3 separate regions of the Homo sapiens genome follow, and all the other regions are linked to region 1. The links come from fine-mapping of genetic effects on gene expression. A gene starts in region 1. Each other region holds a variant in brackets. All regions are shown on one strand. Distances are between the middles of the regions. Region 1 holds the start of KLHL6 (kelch like family member 6). Region 2 overlaps KLHL6 (kelch like family member 6). Region 3 overlaps KLHL6 (kelch like family member 6).

Region 1 (7,448 bases):
GAACGCAACATGATTCAACCCCAATGAAAGAGAAGTTGCAATAACCGCTAAGACTGCAGATGCATTTGACTCAGCAAACCCCCTTCAAGAAATGCATATGAAAAAAACTCATGTTTCAGGTTATTCATTACAACATTGTTTGTAATAGCAAAATGTGGATTAGAAATAGTCCAGATGTCTGTCCGTAGGGGACTGTTTAATAAACTATTGTCAGTCCCTTAGTGGAAAGTAATTATTTTCTCAGTGAATAAAGGAAAAAAATGACATAATTTTATAACCAGCTTCCAGGCCCTCCAAAACACAGAGAGCTGTGTTGAAAGCCTCACAGACTGGTCGGGCGCGGTGGCTCACGCCTGTAATCCCAGCACTTTGGGAGGCCGAGGCGGGTGGATCTCGAGGTCAGGAGATGGAGACCATCCTGGCTAACACAGTGAAACCCCGTCTCTACTAAAAATACAAAAAATTAGCCGGGCGTGGTGGCAGGTGCCTGTAGTCCCAGCTACTCAGGGGGCTGAGGCAGGAGAATGGCCTGAACCCTGGAGGCGGAGTTTGCAGTGAGCAGAGATTGTGCCACTGCACTCCAGCCTGGGCGACAGAGCGAGACTCCGTCTCAAAAAAAAAAAAAAAAAAAAAAAAAGAAAGCCTCTCAGACAGAGAGACTCTTTGACCTCCCTAAACCTGAGCATACGAAGAACCCCTTTCAAAACCTCAGACACAAAGCGAGAGAGTGTGTCAGATTTAACGTCAGTCCTAGGTCTAAATCCCAGCTTGGCTACTTTTTATTTGCTGTGACACTCTGGACTTTGGCTCACCGTCGGTAGGCTGGGGATAGGACTCCCTGCCTTGTCAGGTTGTTGTGAGGGTGGAGTGGACTAGAGTATGTGATACAGAAGCTACAGGGCCTGGCCCACAGTAAGCGCTCCACAAACAGGAGTTGATAGGAATAGTAGCACCGGAAGAAAGAATCCTGTCTCCAGGACAGTATTCATTGTAGAAGGAAAGTCACGTTGAAAATCCCAAGAGAAGAAGCAAAAGTCACTTCTCTGAAGAGAAGAATTGAAGGAATTTCCTCTCATGACCAGGCAGTTTTGGGAGAGGCTCTGTATACACAGTCAGATGCCTTCACCCTCATGTTCTCCAGCTTCTCATTGCCGTTGCCTCCTCTGACGACCGGCAGAGACTTTCCCTAAGTATCCTGGATCAGCAGGGCTGGAAGGACCCAAGCCCAAATTCCCATTTAGGATGAGAAACCCAAGAACCAGAGAAGACCAGTGATCAACTCGAGGGCACACAGCCAGCGGGCCTGGTCCACAGCCAGGCCAACCCGCTAACAAAACTGCTTCCAGGTATGCATTTTATGATAGCAAGGGATACAAAAGGATCAACCTAAATGTGCGTCCCCAGGGCATTGAGCTAACTTGACTTCACTCACTCCTGAGAGGGGCTGCAGTCAACGTGAAAGCACGTGATCAAGGTTGGTGGAGAAAGTAATGTGTTTATATCAACCCATTTTGATGGCTGTGTTTACACTTTATATTTTACACACTTCCCATGGAATGAAGTCCCAGACCTAGTGGCAGCTTGCATTGCAGTAACAAGGATTTCCAGAACATACCCAGTCCCTGCTCCAGCAATGACCAGATATATAATGCTGAGTTTTCATTTCCTCATCTGTGAAATATCAGCCACCTTCATCATGCTGTTACAAAAATAAAATCAGATAACTATGTCTGTCTGGCACACAGCAGCCACTGCTTCCCTCAAACCCAGATATCCCCTTGTCTTATCAACACAGGAGACCTAATGAGTCCCACAGCAACCTGCTGATCCTGCTCTATGAATTACAAAGAAACGTTTCCCCCCAAGCACCTCAAAAAAAAAAAAAAGAAAGAAAGAAAACGCTTTCCATAATACTTTCATAGGTTAATCGTTTTCAATTTCCTCAGCCAGAATCAAGAGTTAAGAAGAATCTCATTAAGAAGAATTCTAAGGGTATTTCTTTTCAAGTTCCCAAATACTTTCTTCATTATCCACATTGCCCTTGCAGGCTGGTTCCCCCATGTCCATGCTGATATGGAGAACACTGGATCAGGTGTATTCACTGGGTTCCCAGCGCTATAAAATTCCTACCCCAGGGACGTGCTCATGGGAAACACTCAATAAGTCATCCTTAGCTGAATCAAGCAGAATCAGAAAAAGAATTCCAAGAAAGATATATTGAGCATCTACTTACTATATGCTAGACACTGTGTAGGACCCTTTTCACGCTCTTGTTTAATTATGACAGCCCTGAAAGGTGATCATCATTGTGCTCACCTTACAGATGATGAAACAGACATTCAGAGCACTTTGTGACTTGCCTAAAGTTTCACTGTCAAGAAGGAACCAAGTCTCCTGACTTCAGGCCTTCCCACTATGAGATCACCAGTTTATCGTAACTAGAGGCCTCTCCCATCTAAAGCATCTTTGTAACTGCTTTCCCTTTCCCCACACTGCCTACACATAAAGAAGCCCCTAATTTGTAACAAGTCATTTGACAACTCCAGAAGAGGGGCCACATCCTTTTTCTCTATGTCTGTTGATTAACAAAGACAACATTATGTTTCCAACACCAGTCAGACCAAGGGGGAAAAAAGTCCCCATGACTTCAGTAATTTTCCATCCTTTGGAACAAGGAAATATACACAAAAGGTTTACTATAGAATGTAAGCATTGCTTTTAAATGATGCCAATCTCTCTTTTAATGTGGCCTAAATCCTAAAATTTAAAGTGTGATAAGCCGGGCGCAGCGTCTCACACCTGTAATGCCAGCACTTTGGGAGGCGGAGGCGGGTGGATCACCTGAGGTCGGGAGTTCAAGACCAACCTGACCAACATGGAGAAACCCCATCTCTATTGAAAATACAAAATTATCCGGGTGTTGTGGTGCATGCCTGCAAATCCCAGCTACTCGGGAGGCTGAGGCAGGAGAATCGCTTGAACCCAGGAGGCAGAGGTTGCGGTGAACCGAGATTGCGCCATTGCACTCCAGCCTGGGCAACAAAAGCAAAACTCCGTCTCAAAAATAAATAAATAAATAAATAATAAAATAAAGTGTGATAGTGTCCTTTCTTATATTTTAAGTAGACACACAAGCCTTAATATATATGTAAACCATAAATATCATGGCCAACTGTTCAAGATTGGGCTCTCACACTAACACACCTCTTCCTTGCAACTTGCACCCAATTTGACTCTGGTCCTAGGCATGCTGACCTGAAATAGTTGCTGGCTGCGGCAAGCACCACGCGGTGGCAGGAGAATTCCTGAATGTCCACACACAAGATGACATCTGTCAGAGCGTTTTCCATTCGCAGGGTTTCCAGGCCATTCTGAAGAATTAAGGAGAGTCCCGCGTCGTCAAATTTGACCTTTTCCCCATTTAAGATCTCGACCAAGTCTCCTGTTTTCTGGGAGGGCTCATCTGTAGAAGGTGCCAGGGGCCCTTCCAAACTCTTCTCGACCACATCACCCATGGTCCAGGCGCCCCTTTGTCCTGCCATCAACATCGAGACTGAAGGAGCGCCCAAGTGTCAGGCAGGCCCCATTGCAGGAGCTGAGCGGATTTCCTGTGCAGGGCCCTCCACTTATCACCAGCTGTCACACACACATAACAGGAAGTCTCGCACTTTCTCATCCTGTTACTACAAATGCCAGCAACTTCTATTCTTCTTCTTTCTGTGAGTAATCACAGGGTTAGAAATTACTTAGAATAGGTGTGTGGGAGGGGGTTCTGGAAGAGGAGTGTCCTCTCAGAGTCCACTGTGAGTGCTGTGTGTTTATTTTGGTGCATCTCCCACCTCATATCCGTGAGCAGGAAGCCTCCGGTGGTGGCTGTTACATTTGTACTCCTAATGCTATCAATAACCCAAGTCGTCAATGAGGGGATGGACAGGAGACAGTCTATAATCCTCCTGCTTCACATTTGTACTCCTAGTGGCTCAATAACCCAAGTCGTCAGCGAGGGGATGGACAGGAGACAGTCTATGATCCTCCCACTTCCTCCTCCCAGGAGTCTGAGACCCCACAATGATCCAACAACCGTGCTTTGTAAACCATGGAAACCCCACTTATCCCTGACATTCTCATTTCTGGCGGCACTGCAGATCGTCTATCTTCATCCTCCTCCCTACCCAGGGGAAAACAACGTCATGGCAAACTTTCATGTCTTCCCCCACCAAAAAAAATGTCTATTGTTTCGAATATGCTTTGGGGGCACAGAAGAAATGGTTTCCAAAACTCCATCAACAGCATCTTCTCAGAGGATGAGTCAGGGTGGGTCTACACCGAATTGCCATAGCACGTCTCAGATTAGCCCAACATCTACTGACCGTGCATCTAACGGTGGATCCTGAAGTATTTTCATTACCTCTGCATGTCTCAGTTAAGTAGTAATAACTGTCATTATTAAAATCCCATGATATCCTGGGGAAGTTATAGGAGCGTATCAGTTAGCGTTCTCTCACGCCCAACAGTAATGCTTTACCAGGTTGCTAGGTATTTCTTAGCCCAGCAAACTTGACATCTAAAATTAACCATTACAATTACAGTCATACCCAGCATAATGATATTTCAGTCGATGATGGACTCCAGAGAGACAGAACCAAAAGGATACCTAGAGAGGCATAGCAGAGGGAAATTATTAGGGGAATTGGCTCACGTGATTATGGAGACTGAGAAGTCGCATGACAGACTGCTGAGAGCTCAGTTCAAGTCCAAAGGCCTCAGAACCAGAGAAGATGGTATAACTCTCAGTCCAAAGCCAAAGGCCTGAGAATCCAGGGGGTGGGGAGACTGGTGTAAGTCCTGAAGTCCAAAGGCAGGGGATCCTGGAGTCCTGTTGTTCAAGGCAGGAGATGACTGTATCCCAGCCTCAGGAGATAGAGACATCGACCTTTCTTCTGTTTTTGTTTTCTCTGGGCCCCTGGCTGATTGGATGGTGCCCACCCACACTGAGAGTGTATCTTCTCTACCGAGTCCACTCAGACTCACTAATCTCTCCTGGAAACAACCTCACAGACACGCCCCATGGTAATGCTTTAACAGGTTGCTAGGTATTTCTTAGCCCAGTAAACTTGACATCTAAAATTAACGGTCACAAGTACAGTCATGCCCAGCACAATGACATTTCAATCGATGATGGACTGAATATACAATTGTGGTCCCAAAAGATTATAATGGAGCATATAAAGAAACCTGACGGCCGGGCGTGGTGGCTCATGCCTGTAATCCCAGCACTTTGGGAGACCAAGGCAGGGGGATCACAAGGTCAGGAGCTCAAGACCAGCCTGAGCAACATGGTGAAACCCCCATCTCTACTAAAAATACAAAAATTAGCCAGTCGCGGTGGCGTACACCTGTAATCCCAGCTACTTGGGAGGCTGAGGAAGGAGAATCGCTTGAACCCGGGAGGTGGAGGTTGCAGTGAGCTGAGATTGTGCCATTGCACTCCAGCCTGGGCAATAAGAGCGAAACTCTGCCTCAAAAAAAAAAAAAAAGTCATGGAAAAATAATGCCATTCACAATGGTAATAAAACATATGTAAATGCCTAGCAATAACAGCAACCAGCAACATAAAGAAAACTAACAAACTTTACTAAGAGTTTCGAAAGAAAACTTAAATAAATATACCAAGTTCCTTTATGGAAAGACTAAATATTATTAAAAGGACCAATTCTTTCCGAATACATTTATAGGTTTATTTTACTCTAATAAAAATTACAAGAAAATTTGGAGTTTAGGTTTGTTTGTTTGTTTGTTTTTGAGACGGAGTCTTACTCTGTTGCCCAGGCTAGAGTACAGTGGTGCGATCTCAGCTCACTGCGACCTCCGCTTCCCAGGTTCAAGCGATTCTCCTGCCTCAGCCTCCCAAGTAGCTGGGACTACACGCATGCACCACCACACCTGGCTAATTTTTTGTATCTTTAGTGGAGACAGGGTTTTGCCATGTTGGCCAGGCTGGTCTTGAACTGCTGGGCTCAAGCGATCCACCCGTCTCGGCCTCCCAAAGTGCTGGGACTACAGGCTCACACCACCGCACCTGCCCCAAGTTTAGGTTAAATGTAAATGAACAGTATCAAGATAGGTTCAAAGCACAGTGGGACTATCTGTAAAAGGATAAACATTAAGTCTAGACTTTACAGTGGACCCAAAGTCTTTTCTCCCTGGAAACTACAAAATTGAGATAGATGTGGAATGTTGTATTCAGAAGCCCCGTATCTGAGTTGGAAATTGAGACTGCTTCCCAGTGTCAAAGTGATTTAGATCTTCCAGACAACTATGAGATCTCATTCTTACTGACACAATGGCAAACAACAAAGTTTCTGATGGTCTGTGATTTTTAGAAAACAATTTTTCTCAGTAAGAATAAGTAGTCACCCACGAAGGGTATCCTTATGACACATTTATAATTGCAAGGAGTCACTTAAGGAAACGTTATTTCTTTTTAACGTTTCATCTGTGTCTGACTTCCTAGCCTGATGAATGGGAGGGCAGATTTTTTACTTTCCGATCTGACCTAATCTTTGAAGAAACGTTGTTTCTTTTTAATGTTTCATCTGTGTCTGACTTCCTAGCCTGATGAATGGGAGGGCAAATTTTTACTTTCTGATCTGACCTAATCTTTCCTTTCTCGCCCTTTTTAAGATTAATAGTCATGAATTTAAATTGAGACCTGGCAGGCGGCCAAGGTCAGCTTCCAAAAGTTATATGCTTGGGCCAGGTGTGGTGGCTCACGCCTGTAATCCCAGCACTTTGGGAGGCCAATGCAAGAAAATTGCTTGAGCCAAGAAGTTCCAGACCAGCCTGGGCAACATGACAAAACCCCATCTCTACAAAAAATATAAATAAAAAAATTAGTCATATATGGTGGCATGCATCTGTAGTCCCAGCTACTTGGAAGGCTGAGGCGGGAGGATTGCTTGAGCCCAGGAGGTGGAGGCTGCAGTTAGCCATGTTCTCACCACTGCATTCCAGCCTGGGCAACAGAGCGGAGACCTTGTCTCAACAAACAAACAAACAAAACAAAAAAGCAAAAAAAAGTCATATGTTAAGCTGTGTTCAATGGAACTATGGAGGGTCGGCTGGCGACGGTGGCTCACGCCTATAATCCCAGCACTTTGGGAGGCCGAGACGGGCAGATCACGAGGTCAGGAGATCGAGACCATCCTGGCTAACACGGTGAAACCCCATCTCTACTAAAAATACAAAAAATTAGGCGGGTGTAGTGGCGGGCGCCTATAGTCCCAGCTACTTGGGAGGCTGAGGCAGGAGAATGGTGTGAACCCAGGAGGCAGAGCTTGCAGTGAGGCGAGGTCGCGCCACTGTACTCCAGCCTGGGTGACAGAGTGAGACTCCGTCTCAAAAAAAAAAAAAAAAAAAACTATGGAGGGTCCAGTTAGTTAAACTGA
Region 2 (7,448 bases), 39 kb before region 1:
ACACGTCACTGGGTAGCTCAGATGACCTGATCTGCCCTGACACAGGAAGGACTAGCCAACAAGATGCCGGTTCCTATTCCTGCTTGGTGGCTGTTGATGAGCAAAGAAGGAAACCACAGAGGAGAATCAAATCAAGTACTGAAGCTCACATTTGTTAGAAGAAGCATTGATCTTCACTCCACCTGGCAATTCATCCATCCAGCTACCTGTGTATGGACCGAATGTGAATTGAGCATGTATTTCTTTTTTTTTATTTTACTTTAAATTCTGGGACACTCGTGCAGAATGTGCAGGTTTGTTACATAGGTATACGTGTGCCATGGTTTGCTGCACCTATCAACCCGTCATCTAGGTTTTAAGCCCTGCATGCATTAGGTATTTGTCCTAATACTCTTTCTCCCCTTCCCCTCCACCACCCGACAGGCCCCAGTGTGTGATGTTCCCCTCCCCGTGTCCATGTGTTCTCATTGTTCAACTCCCACTTATGAGTGAGAACATGCGTTGTTTGGTTTTCTGTTCCTGTGTTAGTTTGCTGAGAATGATGGCTTCCAGCTTCATCCATGTCCCTGCAAAGGACATGAACTCATCCTTTTTTATGGCTGCGAGCATCTATTAATATTATGTAGGAGGCTCCCAACTAGTGCTGGGTGTACAGAGGTGAGCAGAGACAAAGCGCCTGCGCTCATTGAAGCCGACAGACCAGTGGAGGCAGCAGACGCTAACCAAATAATACAACACGGAGTGTGGAAGGACACTTGAGATAAATGCTATGGACCAGAGTCCAGGGACTCCATTGCCTGAAACCAAGGACAGTCCTACCCCCACCCCTTCAATCTTCCACAATCTGGCTGTCAGTCATCACCAGGAACCTCCCTTTCAGAACTCTAGCCACAATTGCACCCATCTCCTCACCTCCTCCAAGCAGTCCTGGAGCTGCCCTGTTGCAGTGCCTTTCCACGCTCCTGCCATCTCTCGGCCTGAGCTGCCTTTCCTCATCATCACCATCTGTTATGATCCTACGCGCCTCACCCAGACAAGCCCAACTCCAGAGCCCAACTTTTTAAGGAAAGACTCAGGATAGCTCACCCCATTTTCAACAGAGAAATCCCCCTGTAAGTTTACCTCAAGAAGAAGGAAGACATAAATATTATAGCCATGACTCTATCCACACAGGGCTGTTTTCTTTCTTTTTTTAAATTTAATTTAATTTTTTTTTTTTGAGATGGAGTCTCTCTCTTGTTGCCCAGGCTGGAGTACAGTGGCACGATCTCGGCTCATTGCATCTTCTGCCTCCCAGGTTCAAGTGATTCTCCTGCCTCAGCCTCCCAAGCAGCTGGGACTACAGGGGCACGCCACCACACCTGGCTAATTTTTTTGTATTTTAGTACAGATGGGGTTTCACCATGTTGGCCATTCTGGTCTCGAACTCCTAACCTCAAGTGATCTGCCCACCTCGGCCTCCCAAAGTGCTGGGATTACAGGCATGAGCCACCATGCCCGGCCAGGGCTATTTTCTTGATTCAGAGTTATTACATCTGGGATCAATGGATCGATCCAGAAAGTCTGTGAACCCCTACAATAGTATGTGAACATTTGCACATGTGGCATTTTTCTGGGAACTTAGTTGGCAGGGGACAGGTGAGTTACTCCCTGGTATCCTTCCACCTAAGTACAAAACCAACACAAGAGAGAGAGCTAAGTCAAAAGATCCAGAGAGGAAGAGAGCCAGAGTCTTGACTAGACGGTGCTTGGAACCCCACCTCTGGACATTTAAAATTCTGGGTCAATAATTGTTTAAGGGCTGGGCACAATGGCTTAAGCTTATAATCCCAGCACTTTGGGAGGCCAAGGTAGGAGAATCAATTGAGCCCAGGATTTCAAGACCAGCCTGAGCAACATAGTGAGACCTCGTCTTTACAAAAAATGTAAAAATTAGCCTGTTGTGGTGTTGCATGCCTATAGTCCCAGCTACTTGGGAAGCTGAGGAGGGAGGATTGCTTGAGCCTGGGAGTTCAAGTTTGCAGTGAGCCATGATCACACCACTGTACTCTAGCCTGGGTGACGGAGCAAGACTCTGTCTCTAAAAAACTAAAAATAAAAAGGAAAAGAAGAATTGTAGAGAAATCCTACCTATTCATGAAGTTCATTCTTAAAAGCTACTTCTTCCTTGACGGCTTCTCCTATTCCCCAACATGGAATCCCTCCCTCCTCTGTGCTCCACTGGGCACCTTGCTTTCCCCTTTTGTGGAGCACCCAGAGTACTAAGGTCAGTTGAGACAAGCATCTCAAAGCAGCTTCTAGGTCATACTTGGGTATTTATTTCTAGCAGCATCTAGCAGAAAGTCTGGAAAAAGAAGAGAAAGAGGGACAGAGGAAGGACATATTTATCACTTAGTATGCACCAAGATCTGTGCTAGACACATTCCCAGTCATTATTTCACTTAACAAATAAATTTTATTTTTTAACAAGTGTATTTTATTTAACAGGTAAAAAAGGGAAGGTGTTAGAATTAGCATTTGTATAAAGGAGCAAATAGAGAATTCAAAGAGCGATGCAAGTTCACACTGCTAGGAGGCAGTACAGTTGATGCTCCAGTCAGCATCGTGGTGCCTTTGTAACTTGTTGCATTGTTGAGCTAACAAAATGCCAGGAGAGTCTGAAGAGGCTTTATGAGGACAGAGGCAGGTGGGGGATCTCCAAGTTGCCTAAGTTCCTCCAAAATATACTTCAATAAACACTTTTAGTGTGAGGGGTGTAGGGCAACATCACATGATCCCAACCAATGGCTGGGAAACTGATGATGCGCAGGGCAATCATGGGAACCAGAAATGGGTTTCTTTTAAATATGCTTTTGCTTCTTCACATTCAAGATTATTCAAGACTTCAAGGTAAATTTTCTGTCTCGGCCTGTCCCGATGACACATGAACTTGTTTGTCAGAGCTGAGAGATGACAGATAATGGCAAAAGACAGCCAGCTTCCTGTTTGGGGGGACATGTGAGCAAAAGGTTGCAGCCAGCCACCTGACTCTCAAATGAGGAGACTAAAAATACAATCAAAGAAACCACTTGAGACGTGGCTGCAGTTCCCACAAGAAGTGTCTGCCTCCAAGAGAAAGCACTGCCTGTTCCTCATCTCCACTGCCCCTCCTCTGCTTCCCCATGACGTTCTCCAAAATCTGAGGTCCTAGGGGACTTCACCCATGTGACTCCATGTCTCCCTCAAGGTGCCTTCAAATCCACTTCAGAATCACTGAAGTCCTATTTTAGTCCACATCAGCAATTCTGTTGATCATGGTGTCCAAGTGGCTTTGGCGTTATTGCAAAGGGTCTATAAAGACATTGATATTCTTACCTTCAGCTCCGACAAATCAGCATGTGTGAAGGTGTGATGAGATTAATAACATTTAAATTTATTTCAA[A/G]GTATTTCTGAATTCATTGTAATTTTTGTTGTTGTTTTTTGAGACAGAGTCTCATGCTGTCACCCAGGCTGGAGTGCATGGTGTGATCTCAACTCAATGCAACCTTCACCTCCCGGGTTCAAGTGATTCTTGTGCCTCAGCCTCCCGAGTAGCTGGGATTACAGGCTCGCACCACCACACCCAGCTAATTTTTATATAATATTTTTAGTAGACACAGGGTTTTGCCATGTTGGCCAGGCTGGTCTCGAACTCCTGGCTTCAAGTGATCTGCCTGCCTTGGCTTCCCAAAGTGCTGGGATTATAGGTGTGAGCCACTGTGCCCAGACAATTGTAAATTTTTTGTCAAAACTTTTCTTCTCCAGCAATAGACACTAAAAGTAAAGTTCCTCTCCTGTGAGGTCTGTGTTGGTGTTTAAAAGGGGTCTTCATGCTAAAAATTTGTGAATTACCATTGATTCTAATCTTCCATCCTCACCTCTCTTCCCCTCTCCCGGGCGATGCTCCAGCTCCGTTCCCGTGGCAGTATGTCTCACAGTCCCCCAGGAGGGGCATTCTCTGCTCCCTCTAGCCACTCCTTTCAGTCCTTGCTCTAGACTTGGCTGAGAAACCTGCTGGTTCCTGGAAGCCTCATGGAGTGGGCAGAAAAGGAAGGAACTAAGACCTGCAAAAGACCTGCTCACTAAGGCAGGGCAGGTGTTGAGGGACTGAGGCAACTGTGGAAGTGGACTGGGGAAAAGACCAGCAGTGTGGCAAGCTTACAATTGTGTTCAATCAGCAAACAGCCCCTGAGTTTCCAGAGAAGACGGTGGTGGCCCCAGCAGGCTAGCAGGGCACAACAGGCAATACATGTGACCCACATATTCAAGGGGCAAGTGGCATGGCTGGGGCTCAGTGATTCAGCCCAGCAATGAGGTAAGGACCAGGGAGAAACACTGTTGTAAAGATTAAGTAGAATGATTGCATCTCGGACATGATTGATGCTCAGGGTGTGGTTTGTGTGTGTGTGCGTAGGGCACAGGAGCAGGAATGGAAGCAGAAGACAAGTGCTGAGAAGCAGCCCCGTGAACACAGGCAGCTGCAATAGGTGGGGTGGTGGGTAGAGAAGGCTGAAACAAGTCCACTTCCAGGTTCTCTCTGCCTGGAATACTTTTCTCCCAATCCTACTGCCACCATCCTATGAGGTCCAATTCAATGTCCCCTCCTTTCTGCCCTGGGCTCTACTTGGTTTGCCCAATGGCCTGGAGGCTCATTGAGAATCTTTCAGGGATAGTGGAGGGAAGTGGATATATGGAGTTGGAAGTTCTGGGTTTACTTGAAAATTCCACCCATAGCTCCACCACTTGATGAGCTGAACACTCTCTCTCTCTCAGCTAGTTTTCTCATCTGGAAAGTGCTAAGAACATAAAACTCACCTCGCAGGCTCACACTGATGGTTCTACCTAGCCTGCTCGCCCACAGAGACATGGTCAACATCAAATGGGATATGTAGGGGACAAAATTGCTACAAAAATGTGATCTGTACTCCACATTTTTAATCTTTATATTCTCCTGACAGCTTCTCACAAAACACCTTGCACTTAGAACATGCTTAGTAATTTGTGGTAGTTAGGGAGCAGTTAAAGTCAGAATCTGGTAGCGATATGGATTTTCATTACAATTAAAAACCCCACACCCCACTTCCTGTATTTTACAACCTATAGGCAGCAACCGAGCACAGGCTTACTCAGGGAAGGGGTGATAGAGCAGGCAAAAGAAGATAATTCTTGGCTTTTGAGTTTCTAAATAGACTTTCAGAACTTAAACTAGAGAAGTGGTTTTGAAAGAAATACCAGTTAGTGGTAAGAACCTACCCCTTCCAGCCTCAAAAGCCAGAGTCCTAAAGAGTCTGGGTACAAAGTTTATACCAAAACAGGAGACGTGAGAGAACGGATGACAAAGCAAGAGTCAGCTTTTCCCACCCTGGAGGCAATAAAGATTCCCAGGCAAGGAAGAGGGACAAGAGAGAGATTGTCTAACAACAGAGTGAGAAGCAGGGGTGGGTTCCCGAGATGATGCCTTGCTTCCCATCCCAGGCCAAATCTCCAGAGTGAGGGGGATGCTAAACGTCCCTTATAGGTTGTGAATCTGAGAACAAAAGAACATGTGCCTTGATCGCCGAGCTGAAAGCAGAAAAGCAGCAGTCCGGTATGGCAGCAGCAGATGAGATGAGAGTGTATTGTTTCCAGACAAAGGGGCCCTGTGGCAGTTGCTCCACGTCCCCTGTAGCTCTGGATTTGTAAAGGAGAGGGAATGGAAGTGTCTTTTGTCTTGAGAGGGGCACAGATGTAGCTGAGAGGATTGCCAGACCTGAAGAGGCTTTGCAAACAGGACAGAGAGAATGCAAAGTGACCTGCAAGGACCAATGACCAGAATCAGGTAGGACTGGGGACTTGTTGATGTCAGTGAGAAAGGAATGAAAAATCAGAGAGAGACTGATGGGAACACAGGTGCTCCAGTGGGTGCCACATGGACCAATAATGCAAATGACCATGGTAAGCCCAGGACAGATGCCTCTTTTTTCAATGCCCTGGCACTGTATAAATGTTTCCTGGAACTATATAAGCAACCCGAATCCTGAATTGATTAAACTTTCCTGTGTCACTACCTATGATTTCTGCCACTGGTAGAATGAGAGCTCAGGATAGAAATTAAGTTCAATGATAGAAAAATAACAGGTTTGGACGACCACAGTGCTCATGCCTGTAATTCCAGCACTTTGGGAGGCTGAGGCAGGAGGATTGCTTGAGGCAAGGAGTTCAAGACCAGCCTGGGCAACAGAGAGAGACTTTGTCTCTAAAATAATAATAATAATAATAATAAAAAGCCGGGCATAGTGGTGCATGGCTATATTCCCAGCTACTTGAAAGGCCAAGGTAGGAAAATCTCTTGAGCCTGGGAGTTCAAGGCTGCAGTGAGCTATGATTGTGCCACTGCACTCCAGCCTAGGTGACACACCAAAACCCTGTCTCAAAAAAAAAAAAAAAAAAAAAACAAGAAAACAGAAAAATAATAGGTTAAATCACATTCTTTTTGGCACACTTGAGTTTGTAGCCTAAGATTCAGACCCTCTGTACTAGTTAGGACTCAAAAAGAACAATATGAAATTCAAAAGCAGGCAAAACTAACCCATGGCAACAGATGCTAGAGCAGTAATTAGCGTGGGAAAGGACTGGCTAGGGAGGCTGTGAAGGAGAGTTCTGGGATGCCAGGGCTGTTGTCAATGTTGATCTGACTGGTGGTTGCATGGTGAAATACACATGTGAAAAATCATCAAGCTGGAAGCACTTTAAGAAGTGTACATTTTACTAAATGCAAGTTATACCTAAAAATAAAAGCATAAACAATTGAGATCAAACACCGAGAAATATAAAGACAAAAGAGTTGTTAAATGGCCAGCAGCAGACTCATTCTGGGGATGCTTGCGGGTGAAGGAGGCCAGCTCCTCCACACTTGTGGGTATTTCTCATCAGGTGGGACAAGAGACTGAGAAAAGAAATAAGACACAGAGACAAAGTATAGAGAGAGAACAGTGGGCCCAGGGGACCGGCGCTCAGCATACGGAGGACCCACGCCGACACTGGTCTCTGAGTTTCCTTAGTATTTATTGATCACTATCTTTACTATCTCGGTGAGGGGGATGTGGCAGGACTATAGGGTAATGGTGGGGAGAGGGTCAGCAGGAAAACGTGTGAGCAAAGGTCTCTGTGTCATAAATAAGTTTAAGGAAAGGTGCTGTGCCTTGATGTCATGTAGGCCAGATTTATGTTTGAGTTTACACAAACATCTCAGTGTAGTAAAGAGCAATATTGCCACCAGCATGTCTCACCTCCAGCCATAAGGCGGTTTTCTCCTATCTCAGTAAATAGAATGTGCGATCGGGTTTTACACCGAGACATTCCATTTCCAGGGACGAGCAGAAGACAGATGCCTTCCTCTTATCTCAACTGCAAAGAGGCCTTCCTCTTTCATTAATCCTCCTCAGCACAGA
Region 3 (7,448 bases), 48 kb before region 1:
CTAAGTAACTGCCTGAGATTACACTGTAAATAAATTGTGGAGTCAAGATTAACACCCAGATCTCTGCCTGACTCCAAGCCCAGGTTCTCACCACTGAAGAATTTTCCAGATGTCAGAATTCTCTCTCCTCCTAAATCTAAAGCTTATAATGTCTGACTCTGCCCCCAGCACCTCGGAAATACAAAAGGCAATAAAAATATTTCATTGCAGCAATTTTGCAGAAGACAGGGTAGGGACCTTTTATATCAGAGAAAATCTTTATCATCTGCATTTCAAGGACTTAGAAAATAGGAAGCAGAAACAAAAATAGCAAAAATATTGGAAGTATAGTTGATCAAGGCACAGTATATGTTTAAATTGTTTTAAAGTGCTATTTATTTTAACTTTTAGGTTCAGCATGTGCAGATTTGTTATATAGGTAAATTGTGTGTTGTGGGGGTTTGGTGTACAGATTATTTCATCATCCGTATGATGAAATCATACATAAGCATAGTACCTGATAGGTAGTTTTTCAGTCCTCACCTTCTTCTCATCCTCTACCCTCAAGTAGGCCCTGGTATCTTTTGTTCCCTTCTTTGTGTTCATGTGTACTCAATGTTTAGCTCTCACTTATAAGTGAAAACATGCATTATTTGGTTTTCTGTTCCTGTGTCAGTTCACTTAGGATAATGGCCTCCAGCTCCATCCATGTTGCTGCAAAAAACATGATTGCATTCTTTTCTATGGCTGTGTAGTATTCCATGGGAGACACTGAATAAATGCTGAACTGAGGGCAGTTACGGAGACTGAAACCTGTCTGCAATTATATGCAGGCTGTCTGCTAGACATCCAGCATAGAATAGGACCTATGTGGTTTCCTAGGCTCCCCCCATCAATCCACTCATCACCCTTCATTTGTTAAATGTCCCATCTTCTCTGACACACAGACTGTTTAGCAGTACCTGGGTAAGACACAGACTGTTTTTGCAGTACCTGGTGCCATATCTGGCAAGGAATTGGTGTTCAGGATTTATTTGCAAAAAATGAAGGCATAGCGTGCTTAAATACATGGGATGCTGTTTAAGTAGTTTTTAGGGGGAAATTTATAGCATGAAAGCCAATATTAGAAAGAAAGTCTCAAATCAGTGGCCTCCACTTCCACCTTAAGAAACTACAGAAATAAGTGCAAATTAAACCCAAACTAAGCAGAAAGAAAGAAAATAATGATCAGAGTGGAAATAGGTGAAATAGAAAACAGAAAAACAATAGAGAAAATCAAATGAAACTAGACATTAGTTATTTGAGAAAAATCAATAAAATTGATAAGCCTCTAACCAGATTGATCAGGAAAAAAAAAAAGGGCAGACACAAATTACCAATATCTGGAATGAGAGATGTGACAACACTATAGATTCTGCAGGTATTAACAAGATAATAAAGGAATGCTGTGAACAACTTTATGCCAATAAATTCAGCAACTTATATTAAATGAAAAAATTCTTTGAGACACAAACTATCAAAATTCATTCTAGAAGAAACAGAGATCCTAAATAGTCCTATATCTATTAAAGAGATATACATTATAGTTTAAAAACTTTCCACAAAGAAAACACCAGGCTCTGGTAAATTCTACTAAACATTTAAGGGTATGTTTGCAGAGTGAATGAATGAACAGTGGATCTAAGGACAACAAAAAAACTAGAAAAGAACACACAGAAAAAGGGAGAAACTCTAAAAGAACCTCAGACAGACAATTCCTGGGCCACGTTTGGCTAAGGCTTCTACCAATGGCCTAATGAAGAAAGCCTGGTAGCTAATCCCAGAACCACTGCATAGTGAGATATATGTATGGGTGTTCATGTGTACAAACTGTTAACAAACTGTCCCTATATCATTACTTCCTCTCCACTAAATTTGTTCTTGTCTTTATAAAGTTCTGAAGAAAAATCTTCTTCAGGAATTGTTAAGGAGAACCAGGTAGATCCAAATGACATGTTTATTCACCGTTCGTAGTACCCATTTAATCATTCAACAAGCATTTACTAATTACTCATTCACTATATAGCAGTCTCAGGACTCTCTTCTAAGATCTAGAGATGTAAAGTGCAATAAGACATATTTCCTACTATAACAAGCTCCCAGTCTAGAGATATTTACATATAATAAATTCAAATCATTGCCATGCAGCAGTTGGTGCTGTGATGGAGCAATGCACCAAGTGCTATGAGAACACGGAGAGTGGCTGGGTGTGGTGGCTCACACCTGTAACCCTAGCACTTTGGGAGGCTGAGATGAGAAGATCACTTAAGCTCAGGAGTTCAAGACCAGCCTGGGCAACATAGTGAGACCTTGTCTCTACAAAATATTTAAAAATTAGCCGGGTGTGGTAGCACATGCCTGTACTCCCAGCTACTTGGATGGCTGAGGTGGGAGGATCACTTAAGCCTGGGAGGTCGAGGCTGCAGTGAGCTATGATTGCACCACTGTACTCCAGCCTGGGCAACAGAGCAAGACCTCCTCTCAAAAATAAATAAATAAATAAATAAATAAATAAATAAATAAATAAATAAAAGGAGAAGTCTCTGGAGAAAGTGATGCTTGGACTGAGTTTTGAAGTAGGAGTAGAAGTCAGCTAGATGAAGAAGAGAAAAGCATTTGAACAACATTCAGATTGACCTGGAGGCAGAAAAAGCACATCCACTTTGGGGAACCACAAGCTGTGCATTAGGACTAGAGCAGAAGTGGGAGGTTGGAGAGGACACTAGAGAAGCAGGCAGGAGATTAATGATGCAAGACCAGGCTCTGGGAACGTAGGCAGGAAGTATGGGCTTTATTCTGAAAGTGATGGGGAGCCAATGAAGAAGGCAAGCCCAGGAGCAAGATGATCAGACTTGAGTTTCAGATCTTTCAGCTGGTGAATAAATTGGAGGGAGGCCAGACTTGGGGGAGGAAGATGAGTTTTGAGAAATTTCCAGAAATTCAGATGGTGAGAGTCTAAATCAAAGTGATGTCAGAGTATATACAAGAGACACAAGATTTCACCAGAGTGGGCAAGGAAGAGCAGCACCCCCATGGAATAGTGACTAGACAGGGCACGTTCTTGTTTTTTTTGTTTTTTGTTTGTTTTGTTTTGCTTTGCTTTTTGAGACAGAGTCTCCCTCTGTTGCCCAGGCTGGAGTGCAGTGGCGTGATCTCGGCTCACTACAACCTCTGCCTCCCGGGTTCAAGTGATCTTCCTGCCTCAGCCTCCCGAGTAGCTGAGACTACAGGTGCATGCCACCATGCCCACCTAATTTTTTTGTATTTTTAAGTAGAGACAGGGTTTCACCATGTTGGCCAGGATGGTCTGGATCTCTTGACCTCGTGATCCACCCGCCCTGGGCCTCCCAAACTGCTGGGATTACAGGTGTGAGCCACCAGGCCCGGCCCAGGGCACATTCTTGTTTGTGCGTGCAGTGTGACCCCCAACCTCCCACCCTTCCACAACTGGGAAGAGGAAGCACGGGCCAGGCATGGTGCTGGGTGATTTCTACATCTCACCTAACGCGCTCAGTAACTGTCTGAACACGTGGGATCGGCCTCATAGATCAGGAATCAGGGCTTCTGGAACTGACCGACTCAGCAATGAACAGGGCAGTGTTTTCTCCTTAATGCCCTAAGGATTTTTGAATCCGCTTTGCTTGCATCTCTGTGAGCCCCTAGCTAACTCCTTACTTCGCTGGTTAAATATAGCACCTCTTATCTTCTACTCACCTCATTGCCAGAAAGGTGGTACATCCTGGCTTCCTGGAGCAGCGGGAAGACCTCTGGGCACTGCCTGATGAGAGGATCTGCTTCCACCGTCTCCACAAAGTACCACGGGTCCAGAAGCGGTAAGCGCACGTTCTCGAGGACATAGGGGAGTAAGCAGAGTCGTTCTGATGGCTTGTGCCGGACCCAGCTCATCACGGTCTCAAACACCTGAGCCTCCTCGGTCACGTAAAGGTCATCACTCTTCAAGATGTGGTGCAGAGTGTCCACGGGCAGGTCAAGAAACTCCTCAGAGTTCAGAATCTGCACAAAGTTTTGAATGATGTAACTCTGAACCTGCTTCTTTAGACTGTCCAGCGAGTGTGTGTCAGCCAGCCTCAGTATTCCAACGCAGTTTTCTGGGTTCAAGGCTTCAGTGAGGAAGCTGGCACAGGCATCCACCATCCGCAGGAACTGATGAAATAGAAAGGGTGGAAAGGAGGCCAGAAAATGGTGAGTCCACAAGGAGGTTTATCAGTGAGTTATGTGTATTAG[C/A]CAAAAATTGGAAACAACCTAAATGTCCAACAGTACAGGATGAGCTAAATACATATAATTCATTCATACAGTAGACTTAAAACAATGAGATACTTACTGGACGAGCTAAATACATATAATTCATTCATACAGTCGACAAAACAATGAGATACTTACGGGAGGAGCTAAATACATATAATTCATTCATACAGTCGACTTAAAACAATGAGACACTTACGGGACTAGCTAAATACATATAATTCATTCATACAGTCGATAGCTCTGTAGATACTTAAAACACATGTTGTAGAAAATATTAAATGAAATAGAAAATGTTCATAATGTATTGAGTTTTAAAATCTGTTCATTGGATCTGATTAAGCCTCTACATTTACTCAGCAATTTACAGGAAATACAGGGAAAGAGGAACCTGCTAAAGACGTCATGGGAACATGATCAGCAAAATCCAGATTGTGGAAAACTCTACTGAACAACTTGTTCAGTTTCTTCAACAAATACATTACAAGGGGATAAAAGAGAGAGAGAAGGAGAGGGAGAACCTAAAGATAAACAGAGATTTAAGACACATTGACCAATTGCAAAGTATGGATCTTATTTGGATTCCTGATTTAAACAATATATATTTTTTAAAGTTGGAGAAATGTTTACAATGACTAATATTTGGTGCTAATGAAACAATTATGATTCATTTTAGGTGCCATAATGGTTTCATGTTTATGTTGAAGAAGAATCCTTATTTTTTAGAGCTATAAGTGAAATATTTGCAGATAAAATGAGAAAAGCACGTCACAAATCATATGTACATTGTGACCTTATTTTTATAAAGAAAACATACACAGAATAAAGTCATAGAAAGAAGATGAAAGGATGTAGGTCAAAATATTAATGGTTGTTATCTCTTTGGGTTATCAGGTATCTTAAGGCAAATTCTGCTGCAGCAGCAAACAACCCTCACGTCTCAGGGGCTTACAATAAATGTTCCTCTTACCCACTATGTGTTCTTCACGGGGCTCTTCATTCCAGGGGCCAGGAAGATGGAAAGCCCTTACCTGAGACATGCTGGTCCCATGACAGAAGGGGAAAAAGATGGCAGAACCACACAGAGGCTTTTAAAGCTTCTGCTCAGAGGGGGCGCATGCTATATCCATTTACACAAAACCGTCCAGAGTAAGTCACATGGCAAAATTTGTCATCAAGGGAACCATAGTTCTCCCACAGAAACAGGTCTCATGGGATGGACAGGGAATATACTATATAAATAATAGAAGGTATGACACTCTAAGAAGACTATGAGAATTTTTCTGTTTTTGTTTATTTATATGTTTTATTTATTTATATATCCTTTAAAATGAATACGTACCGCTTTTGTCATTAAAAAATCAATTTGTAAAATTATTGATTGGCTCTCAGGTCCCACTTTTAAGTTATCACCATCCTCATAAAAATTCAAGTCCCTTGTGCTTGTAGGGCACTTTACAGATGACAAAGCACTGTTATATCCATTATATTTTGTAATATCCATTTTACAGATGACATGTCTCAAATGCATTGGTTCATTCTTATTTGTTGTTCTCTGGAGCTTAGCTTTGAACAATTTCAACCTCCTAGCTCCCTTCCCCGTCTACTGGACTCCTTATAGGGTCAAGTTCTTGGTGCCCATGGGTTGATCGATTAATGGGGGGAGAGGAAAGGGGAGGCTGAGGGGGCAAGACCTGGTGGGGGTGGGGGAGGCCTTCTGAAGGCAGGTCCTGGTGAGAGTAGGGACAGGACAGACCTGACTGGGGAGGGTTGGCAGGAGCTGTGGGGAGTGGGGCTATCGAGCCTGAAGGTTGATAGTGGGGCAGGACTGGTTCTAAGAGTGGACCAAGGTGACCTAGGCTCTGGACTTTACTCCAGAGCATTCCAGGGAACACATCCCTGACTTTTTGGATCAACCTCTATTGCAAAATATTATCTTTCTGTGTCAGATCACATAGGATTGTCAGTTTAAAAAGCATTTTTTAGGCCGGGCGCGGTGGCTCACGCCTGTAATCCCAGCACTTTGGGAGGCCGAGGCATGCAGATCACCTGAGATCAGGAGTTGGAGACCAGCCTGACCAACATGGAGATACCCCGTCTCTACTAAAAATACAAAATTAGTCAGGCGTGGTGGCACATGCCTGTAATCCCAGCTACTCAGGAGGCTGCAGCAGGAGAATGCTTGAACCTGGGAGGCGGAGGTTGCGGTTAGCTGATATCGTGTCATTGCACTCTAGCCCGGGCAACAAGAGCAAAACTCCATCTCAAAATAAATAAATAAATAAATAAATAAAGCATTTCTCCGAGGGTCAATGCTGAAGGGGGCCAGCCCCTCTACACCTGTGGGTATTTCTCGTCAGGTGGGACGAGAGACTGAGAAAAGAAATAAGACACAGAGGCAAAGTACAGAGAAAGAACAGTGGGCCCAGGGGACCAGCGCTCAGCATACGGAGGACCCTCACCGGCACCAGTCTCTGAGTTCCCTCAGTATTTATTGATTACTATTTTCACTATCTCAATAAGAGGAATGCAGTAGGAGAGCAGGGTGATAGTGGGGAGAAGGTCAGCAAGAAAACATGTGAGCAAAGGAATCTGTGTCACAAATAAGTTCAAGGGGAGGTACTATGCCTGGACGTGCACGTAGGCCAGATTTTTGCTTCTCTCCACCCAAACATCTCAGTGGAATAAAGAATAATAAAGCAGCATTGCTGCCAACATGTCTCGCCTCCCGCCACAGGGCGGTTTTTCTCCTATCTCAGAACTGAACAAATGTACAATCGGGTTTTATACTGAGACATTCAGTTCCCAGGGGCAGGCAGGAGACAGTGGCCTTCCTCTATCTCAACTGCAAGGGACTTTCCTCTTTTACTAATCCTCCTCAGCACAGACCCTTCACGGGTGTCGGGCTGGGGGATGGTCAGGTCTTTCCCATCCCACGAGGCCATATTTCAGACTATCACATGGGGAAAGACCTTGGACAATACCCGGCTTTCCAGGGCAGAGGTCCCTGCGGCTTTCTGCAGTGCATTGTGCCCCTGGTTTATTGAGACTGGAGAATGGCAATGACTTTTACCGAGCATACTGCCTGTAAACATTTTGTTAACAAGGCACATCCTGCACAGCCCTAGATCCCTTAAACCTTGATTCCATACAACACATGTTTTTGT

What was found. PIP is the estimated chance that this variant, and not a neighbour inherited with it, causes the effect. A credible set is the group of variants that fine-mapping cannot tell apart.
Region 2: its variant is the best candidate, but not a certain one, in a credible set for the expression of KLHL6 in whole blood (INTERVAL, PIP 0.77).
Region 3: its variant is the best candidate, but not a certain one, in a credible set for the expression of KLHL6 in blood mononuclear cells (TOPMed, PIP 0.63).

Annotation. Positions count from the first base shown.
Region 1 is chr3:183,552,106-183,559,553 of GRCh38, forward strand. KLHL6 (kelch like family member 6) reads right to left here and starts at 3,601. Exons shown (of 7, transcript NM_130446.4): 1 at 3,256-3,601. The coding sequence starts at 3,548. KLHL6-AS1 (KLHL6 antisense RNA 1) reads left to right here. Exons shown (of 2, transcript NR_046687.1): 2 at 1-221. RefSeq lists a silencer at 461-630.
Region 2 is chr3:183,513,467-183,520,914 of GRCh38, forward strand. All of the region lies in intron 2 of KLHL6 (kelch like family member 6), which reads right to left. Among named protein-coding and RNA genes, the nearest start is that of KLHL6-AS1, 32 kb to the right of the region's middle. RefSeq lists enhancers at 2,864-3,143, 5,150-5,650. The variant A/G (reference allele first, on the strand shown) is at 3,422.
Region 3 is chr3:183,504,327-183,511,774 of GRCh38, forward strand. It overlaps KLHL6 (kelch like family member 6), which reads right to left. Exons shown (of 7, transcript NM_130446.4): 3 at 3,733-4,182. Among named protein-coding and RNA genes, the nearest start is that of KLHL6-AS1, 41 kb to the right of the region's middle. RefSeq lists an enhancer at 3,502-4,701. The variant C/A (reference allele first, on the strand shown) is at 4,264.